2 separate regions of the Homo sapiens genome follow, and region 1 is linked to region 2. The links come from fine-mapping of genetic effects on gene expression. A gene starts in region 2. The other region holds a variant in brackets. All regions are shown on one strand. Distances are from middle to middle.

What was found. PIP is the estimated chance that this variant, and not a neighbour inherited with it, causes the effect. A credible set is the group of variants that fine-mapping cannot tell apart.
Region 1: its variant is the best candidate, but not a certain one, in a credible set for the expression of TGIF2 in T cells (TOPMed, PIP 0.60).

The regions. Positions count from the first base shown.
Region 1 is chr20:36,868,243-36,880,077 of GRCh38, forward strand. TLDC2 (TBC/LysM-associated domain containing 2) reads left to right here and starts at 7,896. Exons shown (of 7, transcript NM_080628.3): 1 at 7,896-7,965; 2 at 9,657-9,812; 3 at 10,799-10,951. The coding sequence starts at 7,933. It also overlaps the pseudogene RN7SL156P. RefSeq lists an enhancer at 3,740-4,246. The variant A/G (reference allele first, on the strand shown) is at 5,671.
Region 2 is chr20:36,566,875-36,578,709 of GRCh38, forward strand. TGIF2 (TGFB induced factor homeobox 2) reads left to right here and starts at 6,723. Exons shown (of 3, transcript NM_021809.7): 1 at 6,723-6,871. It overlaps TGIF2-RAB5IF (TGIF2-RAB5IF readthrough), which reads left to right and starts at 7,641. Exons shown (of 5, transcript NM_001199535.2): 1 at 7,641-7,761. It overlaps DLGAP4-AS1 (DLGAP4 antisense RNA 1), which reads right to left and starts at 6,401. Exons shown (of 5, transcript NR_109939.1): 1 at 6,038-6,401; 2 at 4,567-4,669. RefSeq lists enhancers at 4,669-5,221, 5,840-5,899 and silencers at 6,400-6,719, 6,750-6,839, 6,910-7,079.

The DNA.
Region 1 (11,835 bases), 300 kb after region 2:
CTGTGGTGTGATCTTGGCTCACGGCAACCTCCACCTCCCAGGTTCAAGCAATTCTCTTGTCTCAGCCCCCTGAGTGTTGGGATTACAGGCGCCCACCACCACACCTGGCTAATTTTTTTTTGTATTTTTAGTAGAGACGGAGTTTGACTATTTTGACCAGGCTGGTCTCTAACTCCTGACCTCAAGATCTGCCTGCCTTGGCCTCCCAAAGTGCTGGGATTACAGGTGTGAGCCACCATGCCCGGCTGCTGCTTTTTCTTTTTTCTTTCTTTTTTTTGAGACAGAGTCTCACTCTGTTGCCCAGGCTGGAGTGCAGTTGCACGATCTCAGCTCACTGCAACCTCCACCTCCCAAGCTCAAATGATTCTCCTGCCTCAGCCTCCCGAGTAGCTGGGATTACAGGTGCGTGCCACCACGCCTAGCTAATTTTTTTTTTTTTTTTTGAGATGGAGTGTCACTCTGCCGCCCAGGCTAGAGTGCAGTGATGCCATCTCAGTTCACTGCAACCTCCACCTCTTGGGTTCAAGCAATTCTCCTGCCTCAGCCTCACAAGTAGCTGGGACTACAGGTGCCCGCCATCATGCCTGGCTAACTTTTGTATTTTTAGTAGAGACAGGATTTCACCGTGTTGGGCAGGCTGGTCTCAAACTCCTGACCTCAAGTGATCCACCCACCTCGACCTCCCAAAGTGCTGGGATTACAGTTATGAGCCACTGTGCCTGGCCCACTTCTGTTTTCTCAATGAAGAATGCAGTTGCCAGCCATTCAGAGTAAGAGAAAGAAGAGATCTCAGAGAGTGAAAATCAAACCTTCTGGGACATGTCAGGGAGTGTCTGGTCATCTTATACTCACCTGAAGTTCAAAGGGGAGCCAGTCAGCCCAGTGAACACCGGGTGTATTCCCTTTTAGTCATTTTCTCTTTGCTAATTTCAAGTTTCTTTTGCATAGCTGAAATCTTACTGCCTATGCAATTTTGTATCCTGCTTTTTTCGCTTAACAGGGTAGCAGAAGCATATCCCCACACATTTATAACACATTTATAAGCTCTTTGCAAACATCACTCTTCATACTTAGAAATAATCCACTGGGCTGGGCGCGGTGGCTCACGCCTGTAATCCCAGCATTTTGGGAGGCCGAGGTGGGCGGATCACAAGGTCAGGAGGTCGAGACCATGCTGGCTAACACGGTGAAACCCCGTTTCTACTAAAAATACAAAAAAATTAGCCAGGCGTGGTGGCGGGTGCCTGTAGTCCCAGCTGCTAGGGAGGCTGAGGCAGGAGAATGGCAGGGACCCGGGAGGCGGAGCTTGCGGGGAGCCGAGATCGCGCCACTGCACTCCAGCCTGGGAGACAGAGCAAGACTCTGTCTCAAAAAAAAAAAAAGAAAGAAAGAAATAATCCACTGGGCCATGCGCAGTGGCCCATGCCTATAATCCCAGCACTTTGGTAGGCCGAGGCGGGCAGATCACCCAAGATTGGGAGTTCAAGACCAGCCTGACCAACATGGAGAAACCCTGCCTCTACTAAAAATACAAAATTAGCCAGGCGTGGTGGTGCGTATGCCTGTAATCCCAGCTACTTGGGAGGCTGAGGCAGGAGAATTGCTTGAACCCGGGAGGCAGAGGTTGTGATGAGCCGAGATCACGCCATCGCACTCTAGCCTGGGCAACAAGAGCAAAACTGTCAAAACAACAACAACAACAACAACACAGAAATAATCCACTGAATGGATGATGTTCCATGAATCACTTCACCTTTCCCCCTTTTATTAGACACTTAAATTTTTTCCTGGATGACTATTGCAGTTCTGAAAGAGGCAGCATGAGGTCTGGTCAAGAAGAATGGAGAAGGCAAATTGCTGGTCGCAGTGGCAGTGCCTATAGTCCCAGCTACTCGAGAGGCTGAGGCAAGACAATGGCTTGAACCCTGGAGTTCTGGGCTAGAGTGTGCTATGCTGATTTGGTGTCTGCACTAAGTTTAGCATCAGCATGGTGACCTCCCCCGGAGCAGGGACCACTAGGTTGCCCAAGGAGGAGTGAACTGGCCCAGGTCAGAAATAGCAGATCAAAACTCCCATGCTGGACCAGGTGCAGTGGCTCATGCCTGTAATCCCAGCACTTTGGGAGCCCAAGGCAGGTGGATCACTTGAGGTCACGAGTTTGAGACCAGCCTGGCCAACGTGGCAAAACCCTGTCTCTACTAAAAAAAAATGCAAATTAGCTGGGCATAGTGTCACAGGCCTGTAGTCCCAGCTATTTGGGAGGCTGAGGCAGAAGAATCGCTTGAACCCAGGAGGCAGTGGTTGCTGTGAGCCAAGATCAAGCCACTGCACTCCAGCCTGGGTGACAGAAGAAGACTCCGTCCAAAAAAAAAAAAAATTAAAATAGGCTGAGTGCAGTGGCTCACACCTGTAATGTCAACACTGGAGGCTGAGGTGGGAGGCTCACTTGAGACCAGGAGTTCAAGACCAGCCTTGGCAATATAGCGAGACCCCGTCTCTACAAAAACAAAATAAATAAATAAAAGAAATTAGCAGGGCATGATGGCGCATGCCTGTAGTCCTAGGTACTCAGGAGGCTGAGGCAGGAGGATTGAGCCCAGGAGACTGGCTGCACTGAGCTATGATCATGTTACTGTACTCCAGGCTGAGTAATAGAGCAAGACCCTGTCTCAAATATAAAGTAAGATAAATAAATAAATAAAGATATAAAAAGAAGGTAAACTTCAAGGCAGAGTCCAGACATCTGCTAGGCCCTCTGGTATCTGGAATTCCATCATAGAAGATTTTTGTTCTTGTTTTTTTTTGGTTTTTTGAGACAGAGTCTTGCTCTGTTGCCCAGGCTTGTGTGCAGTGGCACAATCTCAGCTCACTGCAACCTTTGCCTCCTGGGTTCAAGCGAGTATCCTGCCTCAGCCTCCCAAGTAGCTGGGACTACAGGTGTGTACCGCTACAACCGGCTAAATTTTTTTGTATTTTTAGTAGAGACGGGGTTTCGCCATGTTGGCCAGGTTGGTCTTGAACTCCTGACCTCAAGGAATACACCTGCCTCAGCCTCCCAACGTACTAGGATTATAGGCATGAGCCACTGCGCCTAGCCTTTTTTTTTTCTTTTTGAGTCAGAGTCTTGCTCTGTCGCTCAGGCTGGAGTGCAGTGGTGCAGTCTCGGCTCACTGCAACCCCCACCTCCTGGGTTCAGGCGATTCTCCTGCCTCAGCCTCCCAAGGAGCTGGGACTACAGGCATGCGCCACCACACTCAGCTAAAATTTTTTTTTTTTGTATTTTTAGTAGAAATAGGGTTTCGCCTTGTTGGCCAGACTGGTCTTGAACTCCTGACCTCAGGTGATCTGCCCACGTCAGCCTCCCAAAGTGCTGGGATTACAGGCATGAGCCACTGTACCCAGCCTCCATCACGGAAGCTTTCTAGCAGCCGGTTATGTGGCAGTTGATGTTCCTGCCAGATCACACGCTGAGTTTTCCTGACCATGAGGACACAGAATGGGACAGTAAGGCAAACCCCATTGGCTTCTCAAAGTGCTCAGTGGTTCAGGTGTTGAGCTTGGAGGAGGGGTGGCAAGAAGTGCTAGGCATGTGAGCCCCAAGCCATTTACAGCTTAAACACACATTGCAACAGCCATGTTTGAGGTGGCAACAGGGCCCTTTGCTTACTTGTTTTCCCCATAATACACGTCCTTTTGGCATCCCACACTTCCCGGAGGGAACACTGCCCCAGGACACCCGGCCACGAGCAGGGCATCTGGGGACCCATGTCCTCTCCACCAAGACCAGCAGAATAGGGTCTCTTTCAGCTGTGAAAAGATGGCACAAGCTACCTGTGAAACGGTGGGCTCACCCACCTAACAGGCCGGTGACCTGGGCACATTCCCCAGGGGATTCCCATCCCAGGGGCAGGCTACTGAAGCCCTTTCCAGCTTTGAAGTTCTGTGAGTCAACAACAGAGCAGTCATTGAGATCTTACTGTGAGCTGGGGACAGAGAAGTAGCCCCCTCTTCAATGGATCGTCTACTGCCTGCCAAACATAGCTTCCTGTGTGTGACCTCGCCTAATGTCACCACAGTCCAGTGAGAAACGTCCTCATCTCATCTGAGAGGAAACCAGCAGGGGCCGAGCCTGCCGGCCCTGGAGCACAGGGTGACTGACGGAGAACCCCACAACCTCACCCTTTCCTGTAGTGTTTGTAGATCAGAGATTTTATTTTCTTTTATTTTTGAGACAGGGTCTCACTCTGTTGCCCAGGCTGGAGTGCAGTGATGTGATTTTGGCTCATTGCAGCCTCGACTTTCCCAGGCTCAGGTGATCTTCACATCTCAGCCTCCCAAGTAGCTGGGACTACAGGCATGTGCCACCACACCTGGCTAATTTTTAAAATTTTTTTGTAGAGATGGAGTTGCGCCATGTTGTCCAGGCTGTTCTCAAACCCCTGGGCTCAGGCGATCCTCCCACCTGAGACTCCCCAAATCCTAGGATTACAGGTGTGAGCCACCGTGCCCAGCCATATTGCAGATTTTAACCTCAAGGGAATAGTCTTCAGTGGTGGGCATCAAGCACCAGGACCTGGCATCTGGCAGCTGTGGTGAGAGGCTTCAGGAGAGCCAATGTGCCTGCTATCCCCACCTCTTTGGGCTGTTGGGGGCAGAGCTGGGTGCCGGGGGATGATAAGGTCTTGTTTGTGTGTGCTTGTGGGATTTGAGTTTCTGATGTATCATAATCACTGCTGGGCCTTCCCAGCTGGAACCAGAGTGGGCACAGGGCCAGGGCTTGCCGCCCTCTGGGCAGATATAAGAGCTAGGGAGGAGAGCCTGGAGTCTGGGTCAGAGGGGCCAGCCACCTACCCAGGGACCAGGGATTGGAGCTAGCTGCCGCAGACAGACCACCAGGTGGGCAGGGTCAGTGCCCGTGTGGCCCCCTCTCTGGGGATCAGGGAGATACGCTAAAGGCAGGGTGAGTACATCCTTCCACAGCTCCCTTATTTCCCTTCACCCTTTGAGCTCCTCACCCTGCAACTGACCAAGGGACTGCCTGTCCCAGAGGCACCCAGGTGGAGGCTGAGGGGTCACTTGTCAGGGATTCGAGCCCTAGACTCTCAAAGAGTCAGTGTGGGGGGATTGTAATAAGTATTGCCACTCACCCAGCACCCACAAACAACATAAGGTACTGTTATCTCACCTAACTGAGGTCAGGAGGTTGGATGCCTGGCTTAACACCCTAGCTCTCTAGGCTTTATCTTCATTTACTCTTACAACAGCCCTGATGTAGATGTAGATATTAATATTTACAGGTGAGGTGACTGAAGCACAGGGATGTAAAGTAATTTCCCCAAGGCCACACAGCAAAGAAAGTGGCAAAACCAGGATTTGAACTCTCTGACTCCAGAGCTTGTCCTCTTAACCGCCGTCCTACACTCATGTGACTGTGATGAGTTCCTTCCCTTTTCTGAATGGCAGTTTCCTTATCTCTAGTCCGAGGGTCATAAGGTTTGATGACCAGAAAGATATTACCTTGAGCTTCCCTAAAAGTACTTGGACATGGGTCAACTTTAAGCACCTGGGTAACCTTGTTGGAAACACTTATCAAGAACTATGCATATGGCCTTTGATCCAGCATTCAACTTTTGAAATTTATCATAAAGGATACAGTCAGATTTATGAACA[A/G]CGTTCATTGCAGTTTTGCTAATAATTAGAGAAAATTAGAAGTAAACAAAATGTCCAACAGCAGGGGGAATAAGTTATGAATGTCCTGTGATGAAATAATACGCAGCCACTCGAGGAATCATGCATTCCAAGAGCGTAGGGTATCTTGGAGAATTCTCGATTGTTGTTAGTAGAAAAAGTATTTTATAAAACTGTGTGGTCGGCCGGGCGCGGTGACTCATGACTGTAATCCCAGCACTATGGGAGGCCGAGGAGGGCAGATCACCTGAGGTCAGGAGTTCAAGACCAGCCTGACCAACATGGAGAAACCTCGTCTCTACTAAAAATACAAAAATTAGCTGGGTGTTTTGGCACGCACCTCTGATCCCAGCTATTTGGGAGGCTGAGACAGGAGAATCACTTGAACCTGGGAGGCAGAGGTTGCAGTGAGCCAAGATCACACCACTGCACTCCAGCCTAGGCAACAGAGCAAGATTCTGTCTCAAAAACAAAAACAACAAAAACACTGTGTGGTCAATATGGTATGAACACATAATGTGAGCCCTTTGCAAATATACCTTTGGGGGTTGAGAGTTTATTTGTGAGAGATGGAATTGTGAATATTTTTATATTCTTATTCTTTTCCGGTTTCTCAAATTTTCTACAATATCTAAATATCACTTTTTAATTAGAAAAAAAAAAGCTTGGGCCGGGCCCAGTGGCTCACGCCTGTAATCCCAGCACTTTGGGAGGCTGAGGCGGGCGGATCACCTGCGGTCAGGAGTTCGAGACCAGCCTGACCAACATAGAGAAACTCCATCTCTACCAAAAATACAAAATTAGCTGGGTGGAGGCTGAGGCAAAAGAATCACTGGAACCCGGGAGGCAGAGGTTGCGGTGAGCCCAGATCACGCCACTGCACCCCAGCCTGGGCAATAAGAGTGAAACTCCATCTCAAAAAACAAAACAAAACAAAACACCTTTTAAAATCTATTCTTTTTTTTTTTACTGAACATTAACAAAAGTTTATTTATGTTTCAATTTAGAAATTCATATGTTCCATAGTGAAACCCCGTCTCTACTAAAAATACAAGAAATTAGCCAGGCGTGGTGGTGGGTGCCTGTAGTCCCAGCTACTTGGGAGGCTGAGGCAGGGGAATGGCGTGAACTCGGGAGGCAGAGCTTGCAGTGAGCCAAGATCATGCCACTGCAGTCCAGCCTGGGCGACAGAGTGAGACTCTGACTCAAAAAAAAAAAAAAAAAAAGAAATTCATCTGTTCCCCCCACCCCCATCTGAAACTAAATATGGAAAAAGAAACAAAGACTTAATAAAGAAACTTTCTGTTAAATGACAAGCAAAGCAATGATGAAAGCCTAAAATACATCTGTGTTTAGGATGCAAAGTAAAAATAGCTTTTTTTTTTTTTTTTTTTGAGACAAGGCCTCACTCTTGCCCAGGCTGGAGTGCAGTGGCATGATCTCGGCTCACTGCAGCTTCCTCCTCTCAGGCTCAGGTGATCCTCCCACCTCAGTCTTCCGAGTAGCTGGGATTAAGGCGCACGACACCATGCCCAGCTAATTTTTATATTTTTTGTAGAGACAGGGTTTCACCATGTTGCCTAGGCTGGTCTCAAATTCCTGGACTCAAGTGATACGGCTCCCTCAGCCTCCCAAAGTGCTGGGCTTACCGGCATGAGCCACTGCACTGGGCCAGATTGTTCTTTCAGTCTAGGCATGCCCCCTTCTAGCTTCTGTTCTAACACACTCATCGGCTTGGAGAGGGAAGTGAATGGCAGACTGTCAGTCCCGCGAAGTCTTCTGAGATTATCTGGTTCAACATGTTACATGTTGTGTGTGGTGAAACTGAGGCTCAGGAGTGCAAATGGGCTTATCCAAGGTCATACGGGGAACTAGAGGCCCCAGACCTCCAGCCTGGGCCTTAGGCATCTGGCCAATGGCCCACAGTCCCAAGGCCAGGCTGCCAGAAGGACAAGGAGGTAGAAAGGAATTGCAACCAGAATCTATGGTGTATGGTTAATACGTGTTACATGCTAACTGCAATGAGGTCTTGAATGCCGAGTTGCTCACAGACTCACCCAGCAGCAGCTCGGCCTGGAGTGACAGGTGAGAGGGAGCAAAGGGCAGCTGGCGTGGGCATGGAGCTGGCTGGGTGTGCCCCAGGCCTCTCCCTCTCATCTCTAGGCCTCACCTATCAGCGCTTCCTTCCTGGGCAGGGCTGAGGATTCACTCACTGCCCACGGCCGGCTGAGCAGGGACAGGAGAATGAGAGGCCTCCGCTGGCGTTACACTCGGCTGGTAAGGGTTCCAACTCCGTCTGTGGTGCAGGTTGGGAGGTGAAAGGAGGTGAGGTCTCTGGCAGGGTGGGGCCTGGGCTAGGGTTGGATGCGGGCAGTGACTTGTTCCCCTCTCAAGTCCCTCCCTGGCAGGCCTGTGGTTTGGAGCAAGGACTGACTCAGGAACATGGGGTCTTAACACCCCTGCTCCAAGGTTCTCAAGGGGGACAGACCGATGTCTCTGTCCCTTCCTCCCTGGAGTGGGTGCTGGATGGAGCTCTGTTCAGAGCCACACACAGCTAGACCTGCCTCAGGCCTGAGCCTGGAGAACAGAGCGGGGCAGGAGAGGGGGTCCTGTCCATCTCTCAGCCCTTGAGAGGTCTCTTCTTCCTGGGAAAAGCCTGCAAGGTCATTGTGTGGAGGCACACACATACACATACATATAACATATACACACTCACACGCATACACATGCAAACACACACACTCACACACTCAAACACACTCAAATGCACTCATACACACTCAAATGCACTCACACACTCAAACACACATACAGACACACACACATTCAAACACACACACTCACACACACACTCTGGTACAGAGTGGAAGCTCGGATGAATGAATGAGTGAATAATGATGCCCCTTATGGATGTAGATATTTACACCATCACAACTCACACAAACACATTGATATATAAACACAAATTTACACTCAATACCTCCACACATTGATGTGCCTACACAACTCTATTCCAAGCCAACACACAATTCGCACAGACAAACACATTTTACATGAACCTACATGTATGATCCCACATATGACTGCATGCATCATTTCACGGGCTTCATGGGGAAACCTTTGGGCTTCATTTTCTTCCTTTGGAAAATGCTGATAAGAAGAAATACACAGAAGGCCAGGCGCGGTGGCTCACGCCTGTAATCCCAGCACTTTGGGAGGCCAGGTGGATCATCTGAGGTCAGGAGTTCGAGACCAGCCTGGCCAACAGGAGGAACCCGTGTCTCTACTAAAAATACAAAAATTAGCCAGGCATGGTGGTGGGCACCTGTCATCCCAGCTATTTGGGAGGCTGAGACAAGAGAATTGCTTTAACCTGGGAGCCAGAGGTCGCAGTGAGCTGACATTGCACCTCTGAACTCCAGCCTGGGTGACAGAGCAAGACCCTGTCTCAAAAAAAAAAAAAAAAGGAAAAAGAAAAAAGAAGAAGAAACACACAGAGATCACAGACAGTGCACACTGAACACAGGCCTGGGCAAGGATGGGTTTTTTGTTGTTATTATTTAATGTACAAACACACACAATTGAAGCTCCCAGGGCTATGCCACCACCTGCCTTCCCCTCTGCTCCCAAGCTTAGAACTTGATCCCTGCCACCCACCCAGGACCATGGCAAACAGACCGACAAGTCGCACGGCCCACGGCCCCATCTGAGCCTTGTGGGGTGCTGGCGGGGGTGGGGGGACTGTGCTCCAGCCCTCAGCTGGCAGGGGCCAGGGAGGAAGCAGGCTGGCGGCAGGGGCAGCGTCCTGTCTGTCGTGGAAACCCCCAACTACCCTGGGCTGGGCTGGGGGTTACAGGCACATGGGCAGGGAGTGATGAGGTGGCCCGAGGAGGCTCTTGGGCTCAGGAGATGGTAGAAGCTGGGACCTCCTGTCCCTGGACACACCAGGCCACTTTGTGTTTTTGCAGCCCAGCCAGGTGGAGGACACCCTGTCTGGGGAGGAGGGTAACGAAGAGGAAGAGGAGGAGGAGGCAGCTCCAGACCCAGCTGCTGCTCCTGAGGATCCCACGGTGCCCCAGCTGACAGAAGCCAGCCAGGTTTTGAGTGCCTCAGAGATTCGGCAGGTCTGGGCATTGCCCATGGCACAAGAATTTCAGCCCTAAACCTAAGAGTCTCACCCTCCTGCCCTACACCAGCCACGCCCAGGGGCACCTAGAGTCACTCTTGCTCTGTTCTCATCATGCGTTACCTCCGGCAAATTGCTTCTTCTCTCGGGGCTTTGCTTTCCCTTCTTGTAAAATCATCCAGTGTTGCTAGCACCTCCCTCTACACTGGGCCAGGAGGTTAAGGAGGTAAAGAAAGAGGCTAGGACGGGCGCGGTGGCTCACGCCTGTAATCCCAGCACTTTGGGAGGCGAAGGCAGGGGGATCGCTTGAGGCCAGGAGCTGGAGACGAGCCTGGCCAACATGGCAAAACCCTGTCTCTACTAAAAATACAAAAATTAGCCGGGTGTGGTGGTGTGCACCTGTAGTCTCAGCTACTCGGGAGGCTGAGGCACAAGATTTGCTTGAACCCAGCAGGCGGAGGTTGCAGTGAGCTGAGATTGTGTCACTCTGCTCCAGCCTGGGTGACAGAGTGAGACTCTGTCTCAAAAGAAAAAAAGGAAAGAAACTAATTCCTACCTAGAACCAGCCCTTGGGAACTGAGGCCAAAGCTGGAGAGGGGTGGGCGGATGAGACGGAGGATCAGGAGGAGGGTTCAGCATCTTTCCTATTCTCTAGCCTCTGGGGGCAAGGGTGACCAAGCAGAAAGAGTCCTGAGAGTCCTGACCTGGGTTCAAATCCTGTCTCTACCATTCACTACCCATGCGAGCTTTGGGCTAGTTGTTCCACCCTCCCTGGGCCTCAGTTTCCTCATCTATAAGATGGGAATAACAACCCCTATCTCCGAGGGCTATGGCTGATGGCATGAAAGTCCCTAGAAACAGCAAACTGCTCTATCGCCTGTAAAGCACTGTGCTGGATGCATGCTAGCTGTCCAAGCCCACCCCCAGGATATGGCAGGAGGGCGCGAGGAGAACTCCTCCATTCACCTCCAACCCTGTCCCCAGCTCAGCTTTCACTTCCCACCAAGAGTCACCGGCCATCCCTGGAGTCTGGTCTTCTGCACGTCAAGGGACGGTTTCAGCCTGCAGAGCCTGTACCGGCGGATGGAGGGCTGCAGCGGGCCAGTGCTGCTGGTGCTCAGGGACCAGGACGGGCAGGTGAGCTGGGCAGGGGCACCACCCGAGGCTCTGGGGGCACCCCACCAGGTACTCATGGGCCCTGTCCCAGGGCAGCTCAGGGACAAGCAGGCAGAGTGACAGACTAAGTCACCTATAATGGACACTGATGATGGCAATGAGACCTGCCCACTCAGAGCCATTCCCCCATTTATGCATTCAACACATCTACATGGGGCGCCTTCTGTGTGCCAGGTGAGAGGTGGGATAGAGCAGAATCAACCCAGAAGAGGTCCCAGCTCTCTTGGAGCTAATGGTCTAATAGGGGAAGGGTCAGACATTAAGCAAATAATCATTTGACTGTAAAACTGCATCTTCATCCTCAGAAGCAGAAGAAACTATGGGGGTGCTGGGCACGGTGGCTCACACCTGTAATCCTAGCACTTTGGGAGGCTGAGGCAGGAGGCTTGAGTCCAGGAGATCAAGACCAGCCTGGACAACATAGCCAGACCCTGTCTCTAAAAAAACCCAAAACCAAAACCAAAAACCAACAACAACCACAAAAAAATTAGCCAGGTGTGGTGGTGTATGCCTATAGTCCCAGCAACTGGGGCCAGGGGTGTTGCAGGGTAGTTGAGGCAGGAGGATCACTTGAGCCTGCAAGGCTGAGGCTGCAGTGAGCCATGATCACACCACTGCACTCCAGCCTGGGTGACAGAGTGAAACCCTGTCTGAAAAAAAAAAAAATAGAGATGTACACTGGCATTAAACTGATGTCAGAAGGAAACATACCAAAATATTAAGAGTGGTTATCTTGGGGAAGAAGGAGGGGGATTAAGAGATGGCTTTACTTTTTTTCTTTTGCTTGTCTATTACTTCTACTTTTTTCTGTGATTACTTGTGTAGAATATATATATACATATATA
Region 2 (11,835 bases):
GACAAACCCTCAGCTAGACTGACCAAGAAAAAAAGAAAAAAGACTTGAAATTACTAGAGTCAGAAATGGAGACGATAATATTACCATTAACCTTTCAGGAATAAAATCCTACCTCCTCCAATGACCAGTTTTATAACCTCAGGTGTTACTTAGCCCCTCTGTGCCTCCCTTATCTCTATTCTTTAATCCCAACACTTTGGGAGGCCGAGGCAGGTGGATCACTTGAGCTCAGGAGTTCAAGACCAGCTTGGGCAACACAGCGAAACCATGTCTCTACTAAAAATGCAAAAATTAGCTAGGTGTGGTGGCGGGCGCCTGTAATCTCAGCTACTTGGGAGGCTGAGACATGAGAATCACGGGAACCTGAGAGGCGGATGTTGCAGTGAGCAGAGATTGCACCACAGCGAGACTCTGTCTCAGAAAAAGAAAAAAGAAAAAAAAGCAGTGGACTCCTAGATCCTATGAAGGCTGCAACCTAGACCCGACAAGAGATCAGAAATTTATTATCCAAAGAATACAGAAGGTCCTGGACAGATGAACACCAGGCACAGGAGAGGAGAAGACAGCAACAACAGAAGGGTTACACAGAAATTCATGTACTCAGTGTTGAGGATATCCAGACCCTTAGTCTTCCTCCACTCAGCTTGGGAACACTGTCAGCAAGGCACAGAGCCCACTCAGGCCTTCATGCCGCACTAGCTCCCAGGGCCCCAGACCTTCTAGTACAATGGAAAAATGAGACTGTCAAGGCATAGCTCTCATCAAAGAAATTCCAGGCCAGGCACAGTGGCTCACACCTGTAATCCCAACATTTTGGGAGGCCAAGGCAGGCGGATCACCTGAGGTCAGGAATTTGAAACCAGGCTGGGCAACATGGTGGAACGCCATCTCTACTAAAAATACAGAAATTGGCCGGGTGCAGTGGCTCACGCCTGTAATCCCAACACTTCGGGAGGCCGAGGTGGGCAGATCACTTGAGGTCAGGAGTTCGAGACCAGCCTGGCTAACATGGTGAAACCCCATCTCTACTAAAAATACGAAAAATTAGCTGGGCGTGGTAGCCTGCGCCTATAATCCCAGCTACTCGGGAGGCTGAGGCAGGAGAATCGCCTAAACCGGGAGGCAGAGGTTGTGGTGAGTCAAGATCATGCCTCTATACTCCAGCCTGGGCGACAGAGCAAGACTCCGTCTCAAAAAAAAAAAAAAAAAGAAAAAAAAAAGCCTACTGAAGCCTGATAGCTTCCAACTTTTCTTCAGCAGCTTCCTCAGCTCTCTCAGCCTTCAGAGAATTGAAGACAGTTAGGGCTTATGCTCTGGATTAGGCTTTGGTTTAAGGGAACGTTGTCGCTGGTCTGATCATCTATCTAGACCACTCAAATTTTCTCCATATCAGCAATAAGGCTGTTCCCTTTCTTATTACTGTGTTCACTGAAATAGCACCTTTTTCTTTATTTATTTTTGTATTTTTTTTTTCTTTTTAGTACAGATGGGCTTTCACCATGTTGGCCAGGGTGGTCTCGAACTCCTGACCTCAAGTGATCCCACCTGCCTTGGCCTCCCAAAGTGCTCAGGTTACAGGCATGAGCCACTGCGCCTGGCCAATTTTTGAGACAGGGTCTCACTCTTTCACGCAGGCTGGAGTACAGTGGCACAATTATACCTCACCACAGCCTCAACCTCCTGGGCTCAAGCCTTCCTCCACCTCAGCCTCCCAAGTAGCTGGGACTACAGGCATTCGCCACCATGCCCAGCTGATTATTTTTTGTTGAGAGGGGGTCTTGCTATGTTGCTCAGGCTGGCCTCAAACTCCTGGGTTCAAGAGACCTTCCCCTGCCTCGGCCTCCCGAAGTGTTGGGATTACAGGCATGAGCCACCAGACCTAGCCAGATAGTTTTTGTTTGTTTGTTTTGAGACAGAGTCTTGCTCTGTCGCCCAGGCTGGAGTGCAGTGGCGTGATCTCAGTTCACTGCAACCTCTGCCTCCCAGATTCAAGCAATTCTCCCGCCTCAGCCTCCCCAGTAGCTGGGATTACAGGTGTGAGCCACCGCGCCCAGCCAATTGTTCTTGAGTGAAATTAAAAGTGCTACTCCAGAGGCGGGGCATGGTGGCTCACAACTTTAATCCCAACACTTGGGACGGCTGAGGCAGGAGGATCACTTGAGCCCAGGAGTTGGAGGCCAGCCTGGACAACATAGCGTGACCTCGTCTCTACTAAAAACTAAAAAAACAAAAAAAAGGCCTATCTTGGCTTTCAACATGCCTTTCTCACTGAGCTTAATTATTTCTAGCTCTTGATGTGAAGTGAGAGATTTGCAACTCTTCCTTACACTTGAACACTTAGAGGCCACTGTACGATTACTAATTGCAAACAGCTGGTTGGTGGAGCGGTCAGAACACATACAATATTGATGGAGTAAGTTTACCGTCTTACACAAGCATCATTCATGATGCCCCAAAACAATTACAATAGTAACATCAAAGATTATTGATCGCAGATCACCATACTAGATATAATAATAACAAACTTTGAAATATTTCAAGAATTACCAAAATGTGGCACAGAGACACATACTGAGCATCCTTTTGGAAAAATAATGCTGGTAGACTTTGCTCGACACAGGGTTGCCAAAAGCCCTCAATTTGAAAAAAACGCAGTACCTGCAAAGCGCAAAAAAGCAAGGCACAATGAAACAAGGGGTGTGCCTGTTTTCTTTGACTCTCACCGAAGCCTTGTGTTTCCACAACATGAGAAAAGGGAGGTTCAGAAGGTGTGGATGATTTTCCTAAATCACCTGGCTAGTAACCAAGTCCCAGGGCCACAGCCTTCCCACCGCAAGGCACTGTCGCCCAAAGCCTTCAGGAGTAAGCTTGGCTGTAGGTTTTCCAGCCATAGGCACACAGCCAGACACAGGTGGGCACTCAGAAATTAGTTACGTGAGTAAATACCCAACAACTAGGAGAAAGCTAGGCAAATTGTGGTTGACCAACAAGACACTGCAAGACTTTTCAGGAGGAAGATGTGGAATTCCACTTATCAACATTAGATGAAAATGCAGAACCTCACATAACAGCCACAAATCTCCCTAGATCTCAGAGGCGGGTCTCCATCCGCTCGGCCTCAATTATCCAGAGCTGAGTCACCAACTATCCTCCCTCCAGTCTCTCCCCAGCTCTCCGCAGGAACCAGCTGGAGCTCTCTACTGCCCACACTGCCAAATCCAAATTCTTCATCCTGGCCTTCACAGCCCTTCCATCTCAACCAATCCAGTTGTTTCCTGAACACTTTCACCCTCCCTGGCCTTTGTTGGACTCTTCCCTCTACCCCACAGAAGCCCATCTTCTCCTTTATCCTGAGATGCAACTTGGCTCATATGGATTCTCAGTGAATGCTGGTGCCTTTCCCCACTTCCATCAAAAAGGGAGCGGTGGCCAGGTGTGGTGGCTCACACCTGTAATCTCAGTACTTTGGGAGGCCAAGGCAGGTAGATCACCTGAGGTCAGGAGTTCAAAACCAGCCTGGCCAACATGGCGAAACCCCGTCTCTACTGAAAATACAAAATTAGCCGGGCGTGGTGGTGCATGCCTGTAATCCCAGATACTCAGGAGGCTGAGGCAGGAGAATCACTTGAACCTGGCAGGCGGAGGTTGTAGTGAGCCGAGATCTCGCCACTGCACTCTAGCCTGGGCAACAAGAGCGAAACTCTGTCTCAAAAAAAAAAAGGAAGCGGCTCACTTTTTTTTTTTTTTAACAAAAGTGGATTTATTCATTTAAACCTATGTGATCACCAAGTTCACTAGAAACTGGCAGGATGAACCTGGAGCCTCACATCCAAGAGCCTCCGGTTTGGGTTTTTCTGGTACGGAGGCAGGGAACTGACTTAGATGACCTGGGCAGCCAGGCTGGTCTGGGCTTGGATGCCTTTCCACCTCTCCTTCCTCTCCTAGTCTATCCCCAGCTCCCTTCCAGGGGTCAGGACCCCAAACTCCTATTAGGCAAGTCTTTTCTTCCCTTAGCAACCCAGTTTCTTCAAACATGGGGAAAAAAGGTAGGAGGAGCTTCTTATCACAATATTTCTTTTTAATTTAGAAAGAGGAGGAGAAAGCTAGGCTCACACCTGTAATCTTAACACTTTGGGAGGTTGAGGCGGTGGATCACTTGAGGTCAGGAGTTCAAGATCAGCCTGGCCAACATGGCAAAACTCAAGTCTCTACTAAAAACACAAAAATTAGCTGGGCACGGTGGTGGGCGTGGGCGCCTTTAGTCCCAGCTACTCAGGAGGCTGAGGCAGGAGAATCGCTTGCAGCTGGGAGGTGGAGGTTGCAGTGAGCTGAGATCGCATCACTGCACTCCAGCCTGGGCGACAGAACGAGACTCTGTCTCAAAAAAAAAAAAAAAAAGAAAAAAGAAAGTAGGGGAGAGAAAAATGACAATAACTTATCACTTGGAAAAAGTTTTCCCACTAAAGTTCTCACCAACTATGTCCAAAGTCCCTCCTTGTTGGGACACTGTAAGCTGTCAATAAATATACCTTGGTCATGCCCCTACATTAGCGCGCACCAACTTACCCCATTTTAAGAGCCTGCGGTAGAGAGGTCTCAGAGTTGCTATAATGGGCCAGCTCCTGGTGAGGGGTATTTAGTTGTTTGCAATTTTCCCGAATGAACAGTTCTGCAAAGAACAATCTTCTATAAGCATTTATCTTTGTTGTACAGCTACTTCAAAAGACAGATTCCTAGAAGTGGAATTACTGTCTTAGAGAATCTACACATTTTAAATTCTGATACTTACTAGTTCAGAAACTTGACACGGTAATTCTCAAACTCTAATTGCACTTAGGCTTTATCTGTGAAGCTTGCTTACGTGCAAAATCTGACCGGCTACCAGCCTCCCTCCACCACTACCCCGTCCTCCAGGAGAGAGGAGGGGCTCCAGGTCTTTGTTATGCAGCTCTCAGGTGGAGGAGGAGGCAGCACTCCCCCGCTTCCATTTTCCCAACCACATCTAGCACCAGACTTGGGAAACACTCGTCTAAGGGGCTGCTGCAGGCACAATTTACGGTGCGGTCTCTTCCTCTAGCCCAGGCCCCCAGTGGCTTCCCCAGAAAGGGCAGAATGTGGCTCTTACGCATACAGGAGAAAAACGCCTAGTGCGGAGTTCAAGCTCAGCAGCCACTACCAGAGCCCCCTCTCCAGGCTCACCTGGTCGCACCCATTTCCCCCTGGGGCTCCCCTCTTCTGAAGGTCCCTGTCCCATACATTTCCTAGAGGCCAAGGCCCATTGGTTTTACATTTCTTACCTAAGGCAACCCAGACGTGGCTTTTTCTTTCACAGGGCCGTGGGGGGAGCACCACTTCCCCGGCCAAAAAAATTGTTTCTGACCCACACTCTGGGCCTTATTTTCCCTGTCTGTGAAATGGAGAGCAACAGGCAGTGCCACTGACATTTCACCCGCTGCCGTGAGGAGGTTTTTAACATTTGCAGGAAGTCTGGCTTCTATGGGGTGTCCAGGTGAAACCTTAACAATCTTTAATCAGCATTCTGATTGGCTTAAGGCTTGTTTGGAAAAAATTAAGAGTTTTGTTCCTAGAGTTCTCCATTGCTAAAGGGTAATTAAGTCCAAAAGCTGTTTTCAAAGCGATTTCCAAGCTCAAGGGCCCTAGATATCTGGACCTAGCCGTGTCCGGGTACAGGGCTGGGGGGCGTGGGGGGATGCCCTAAGAGGCTGGTTAACAGAAATATCACAGTATGTGGTACCCACAGCAGAGAGCAGGGAAGAATGTACTGACTGGGGTGGGGGAGGCCAAGGAAAACCTTCTGGAGTAGGGTGTAACTGGCAGAAGAGGAAAAAGAAACCAGACAGGAACTCCGGGAGCTCCTGGACTGATCGTTTAAGGCCGGGCACAAGGGGTAAGGGATCAGGCTTCACTATCGACCGACCTGGGCTGAATGATACCGGTTGACTGTGTGACAAAAGCAAATCAAGAACCTCTCTGCGGCTCATGAGTAAGCCAGAGACTTACATAGGACAACACATACCCTATCACCCGAGGATGAGACGGGATGACACACACGAAGTGCCCCGCACAGCGTCGTTGTAAAGCGTTGGCTGTTTTCACCTCTGGCCGCCCCCTGTGAGCCCGATCATGTGCTTTTTGGGCTTAGGTCGGAGGCGGCCTCCCAGATTCTACAGGCCATTGAGGTCGTAACAAGCGTCTCCATCAGAGCCTAGTCCTTAACTAGCTGCGGGTAAGTGCCCGGACTAAGTGGCCTCAGTTTCCCCTCGAAGCAACGGGACCAATCGCACCGCCGGCAGGACATCTTGTGCGGGGCGCGAAGTGACAAAAGTCAGGATTTGCAGAAGTTCCCACTCGGTAACGACCCCCACCCCGGCAAGGAGCACAGTAGGCGCTCCGGAAACGCCCTCCACGAGGAGGGCCGGGCCACTTCCTGCCCCCGAGCGGGCTCTCCCCGGCGGAGGCTCCCACCGCCGCTATGGGTAGGCCATGCAGCATTCCTGAGGGCGGGGTGGGCGCAGGAAGAAGGTGCCCGCGGCCCCGCCCCCTCCGGGCGCGCTGGGCGGGGCGAAGCCCCTCGGCGCCGACGGCCCGCCCCGCGGGGGGTGGGCGCAGCTCGTCGCGCTCCGCACAAAGTTTGTTTTCTCCCTCCGGGCGGGTGGGGGAGGGCGCAGAGGGCGCGGGGGGAGGAGAGGGGATCTGACGTCAGGCCGCGAGGTGCTTTCCAGCCGCGAGCTGTCAGGCCGAGTGTCAGGCCGGGCAGGTACGCGGCGCGCGCCCCCGGCGCCCCCCGCTCCCCGCCGGGACGCCCCGCGCCGAGCCGGAGGCCGCGTGGACCCGAAAGCCGCTGGGAAAAGTCAGTGCAGGGAGCAGCAGAGGGCCAGATGGGGGTGGGGGCGCGCGGACAACTTGGAAAGTTTCTTTTTCTCGGCCGGACGGGGAGGGGGCGTCGTCCTGGCGCGTGCGGTAGGGGGTGTGTGAGCTCGGGGGTGTTTGTGAGTCCCGACGGCCCCCGGGGGGTGTTTGTGAGTCCCGACGGCGCTGCGCTCCGGGGGCCGGTGGGGGACTGTTCCAGCCCCCGGGAGGAAGCCCGCTTGGGGCCCTGGTGGGGGGCCCAGCTTCATAGGATCCCACCCCAGGAGAGGGCCGATCCTGCACCGGACCTGAGTGAGCGCGCGGGGGGACGGATTTGTTTGGTTTCAAAAGTGCACGTTGCTAACCGCCAGCAGGGCCCCCCCGCCGCCGAGCCGGACAGGGGGCGGCCGAGAGTGACAGCTGGGGGTGGGGGCCGCGGGAAGGGCCCGGAGCGGGGGGGCCCTGGGGAGCCCGCGCGAGTTCCCCTTTCCTTTGGAACAAAGGAAAGTCTGTCTCCGAGGCATCTGTCACTCCCAGGCTGGCCAAGGAAGCGGGGCGCGTGGGGCCGGCGCCCCGGAGAAAGTTTGTTCGCGCCGGGACCCTCGGGCAGGCCGAAGGTGATCCAAGCCTCCCGCGGGAGAAGCGCGTAGTCTCCGGGGCAGGGGGCGGCCAACATGGAGTCTGGGCGCAGGGCTGGGGGGGGGGGGGCGGCGCGGAGGTGGGAGCCCAGCCCCCTCCCCTCCCTTCCCCTCCCCTCCCCCTCCGGGCCCAGTTCGGAGCACAAAGCCGAGCGCGCACGCTCCGCCGTCCCCGCGCCCCGAAGAGTCGGCCAGCCCCGAACTGCCGGAGTAGGGGTGGGAACCAAACTTTTTCCTGCCCCGGGACAGACACGTGAGTTTTCTTTCTTCCAGAGCCCCCGTCCCACCGGGATGGCGGGCCCGCGCGGGAGCTGGTGCGCGGAGTCGGCCCGGGGTGTGGGGACTGTGGGGTGCAAGCGCCCCGAGCGCCGGACGATTCCTCGCCGACCCAGGAGCCATGTGCTCCGACTCGGTCTGGGCCGCGGGGGAGGTTGCGCGCTTTGTCTGAACTGCTGGGAATGCGGGCGTGAGTGCGCGGCCCGGGGGAGTGTCGGGACCAGCTAGGGGAGTTGTCAGAAAGTTCGTGCGGGAGTGGCTGCAGGTGGCGTCGTGGGAGTCTGTAGGAGGGTGTACGGGATGTTGTGTCGAGGGGTTGCTGCCACAGGTCACTGAGGGTAGAACTGATTGTTAGTGTGATGACGCCTGGAGTTTTCCCTGTCGGAGAGATCGGGGGTGGCCGGGTCGGTTGGAGTTCGTGGGTGGGCGGGTACAGAAGTTGGGCTAGTTGTGTGGGTCACAGTTGTTCGTGCTAGGCCTGGGGTCTGTAAGCTGTGCGTGTGCGTGCTGTATGCGTCGGTGAAAACCCTAGGGTTTGTAAGGCTTGAGCGATGGGTCCGGGCCAGTTATCCTAGCGCTGTTGGTTAATTGCCTGGCGTGAGTGTGTCTGGGTGCGGTGTGGGGTGCATATGTGGGAAGCCTCCCAGACTACAGATGGCCCTGTGTGGCGGAACACCGAGGTGGAGAAGTTTGTGTAGACTGAGGGGTCATTCCCCAGGGCCCACCCGGGGAACCCTGCAGACAGACTTGGCTGGCAGCCAGGGTGGAATTTGTACAGATAACCTTGAGTACTTCTCACAGCCGGCCAGGGCTGCATCACTGAGCCCAGATCCCAGCTGCCCTGGCCACCTAGAAATGGCTGTCTGACCTCAGAAAGCAGCCTGCAGTGGTGCTCTCTGAGGAGTGGCACGTCTAACCAGTGCCTGTCTCACCTCCAGGTGGCCTGACTGAAAGGGTAGACCCTTCCCTCGAAAGCCTGGCCTAGCCAGCCCAGAGATCTGGGCTCGGGTCCAAGAAGAGGAAACAAAACCTGGGAGATGCCAGAGTCTGTTGGCCGGCCTGCTGGGGAGCTGTTAAAAGGCTGAGAAGGGAGGAGCCTTGAGATCCTGGCATCAGCCTGGCCTAGAACTTTTGCTTTTAAAATGAAAATCTGGCTGGGCGGGGTGGCTCACACCTGTAATCCCAGATCTTTGGGAGGCCGAGGCGGGCAGATCACCTGAGGTCAGGAGTTCAAGACTAGCCTGGCCAACATGGCAAAACCCTGTCTCTACTAAAAAAAAAAAAATAGCTAGATGTGGTGGCACACACCTGTAATCCCAGCTGTTCGGGAGGCTGAGGCAGGAGAATTGCTTGAACCTGGGAGATGGAGATTGCAGTGAGCCAAGATTGCGCCACTGCACTCCAGCCTAGGCTACAGAGCGAGACTCCATCTCAAAAAAAAAAAAAGAAAGAAAGAAAGAAAGAAAATCTTTGTTGCACGTGTGAAACAGAACTTTGTCCAGGGACTGAGCAGCTGAGTTGGGTTATCTAGGGAAAATCCTTCCTTCATTTGACAGGTGAAGAGGGGACTCAAGCCCAGAAAGGGGAGGATCCTTGTCCAAGTTACAGTGCCAAGTGGAGGGTGGGCCTTGCTCATTCACCTGGATTTTGAGTGGTTGAGTCTAGGACCAGGCTAAAGGGGCCTGACAAAGGAGAATGTCCAAGAAGCAACCAGTAGAGAGATGACTCACCTCTCTCACTGCAAGGTACACAGTAGGTGCTCCTTAAATATTACTTGGACTGCTGCAGGATCATGGTGATCTGTAGTTTCCAGAGTTCTCACTGGCCCTTGGGAGACCTAGGAGGCAAGACAGTATACAGCTCACAAGAGGGGGTGGGGAGAGGCCTGGTCCAAATCCGACTTCACTATCCTAACCTGGGGGTGGGATTTTTTTCCTTTACAGCTTTATTGAGATATAACTCACATACCATGCAATTCACCCATTAAAGTATACTCATCAGCAGGTTTGGTATGTTTGCAACCATCACTATAGTCAATTTTAGGACTTTTTTGCGGGGGGATAGGGGGACAGGGTCTTGCTCTGCCTCTCAGATGGGAGGGCAGTAGTGTGATCTCATCTCATTGCAACCTCTGCCTCCGGGCTCAAGCGATTCTTCCACCTCAGCCCCCAGAGTAGCTGGGACCACAGACATGCATTACCGTGCTCAACTAATTTTTGTATTTTTTGTAGAGATGGGGTTTCACCGTGTTGCCCAGGCTGGTCTTGAACTACTGAGCTCAAGCGATCCACCTGCCTTGGCCTCCCAAAGTGCCAGGAGTATAGGTGTGAGCCACAGCACGTGGCATTTTTTTTTTATTATTTTATTTTTGAAAACAGGTTTTTAATTATGTCGTCCAGGTTGACATGCACTGGTGCGATCATAGCTCACTACAGCCTTGAACTCCTGGGTTCAAGGGATCCTCTCACCTCAGCCTCTCAGAATAGCTGGGACTACTGGCACACCATCACACTGGGCTAATTTTTATTTTATTTTATTTTTTTATTTTTTTCTTTTGTTGAGACAGGGAATCACTCTGTCACCCAGGCTGGAGTGCAATGCCATGATCTCAGCTCACTGCAACCTCTGCCTTCTAGGTTCAAGCAGTTCTCCTGCCTCAGCCTCCCAAGTAGCTGGGATTACAGGTGTGTGCCACCACACCTAGCTAATTTTTTTTTTTTTTTGGTATTTTTAGTAGAGACGGGGTTTTGCCATGTTGGCCAGGCTGGTCTCGAACTCCTGACCTCAGGTGAGCCACCCACCTCGGCCTCCCAAAGTGCTGGGATTACGAGCGTGAGCCACCGTGTCCGGCCTTTGTTTGTTTTTGTTTTTTTTTTTTTGAGATGGAGTCTCGCTGTGTCACTAGGCTGGAGTGCGGTGGCACGATTTCGGCTCACTGCAACGTCCACCTCCCAGGTTCAAGCAATTCTGCCTCAGCCTCCCGAGTAGCTGGGACTACAGGCACGCGCCACCATGCCCAGCTAATTTTTGTATTTTTAGTAGAAACAGGGTTTCACCCTGTTGGCCAGGATGGTCTCAATCTCTTGACCTCGTGATCTGCCTGCCTCGGCCTCCCAAAGTGCTAGGATTACAGGCATGAGCCACTGTGCCCGGCCTTTGTTTTTTGAGACCTTTTTTATTTTGTTGTCACCCAGGCTGAAGTGCAGTGGCACAAACACAGTTCACTACAGCCTTGACCTCCTGGGCTCAAGCAATTCTGCCTCAGTCCCACAAGTAGGTGGGCTTACAAATGCACAGCATGACACCTGGCTTATTTTTGTATTTTGTGTGTGTGTGTGTGAGCCACTGCGCAGGCCTTGGGCAGCTTTCTTGATCTCTGTTACCTCATCTATAAAATGATGATAATAATAGCTTCTCCCTTATTGGGGAATTGTAATGATTAAATGAGATAACATGTAAAATGCTCAGTACAGGCCAGGCATGGTGGCTCACGCTTGCAATCCCAGCACTTTGGGAGGCTGAGGCTGCTAGATCTCTTGAGGCCAGCAGTTAAGACCAGCCTGGCCAATATGGTGAAACCCTGTGTCTACCAAAAAATACAGAAAGTCAGCCAGGCATGGTGGTGCATGCCTGTAATCCCAGCTACTCAGAGGCTGAGGTGGGAGAATCACTTGAACCCAGGAGACAGAAGTTGAAGTGAGCCAAGATGGCGCCACTGCACTCTAGCATGGGCTACAGAGTGAGAGCCTCTCTCAAAAAAAAAAAAAAAAGAAAAGAAAAAACCAAATGCTTAGTACCGAACATGGAAAACAGTAGACCTCAGTAGAAGCTGTAATTGTTTCCAGCCTGAGTCCTGCTTGTGAATGAGCTGCCATTCGGTAGTCACCTACCTGTTCCATGAAGTGGAGGAACTTTGGACTCATCCCTTCTAGCTTGCTCGGTCTGTGTTACGGCCTGAGATTCTGAATTGCAACTACCCCATTTCTGGTGTCCCAGGCTCAAGTAATGCTGAGCATGTTTGGAGACTAGGAAAAGGCGGTACGTGCTAATG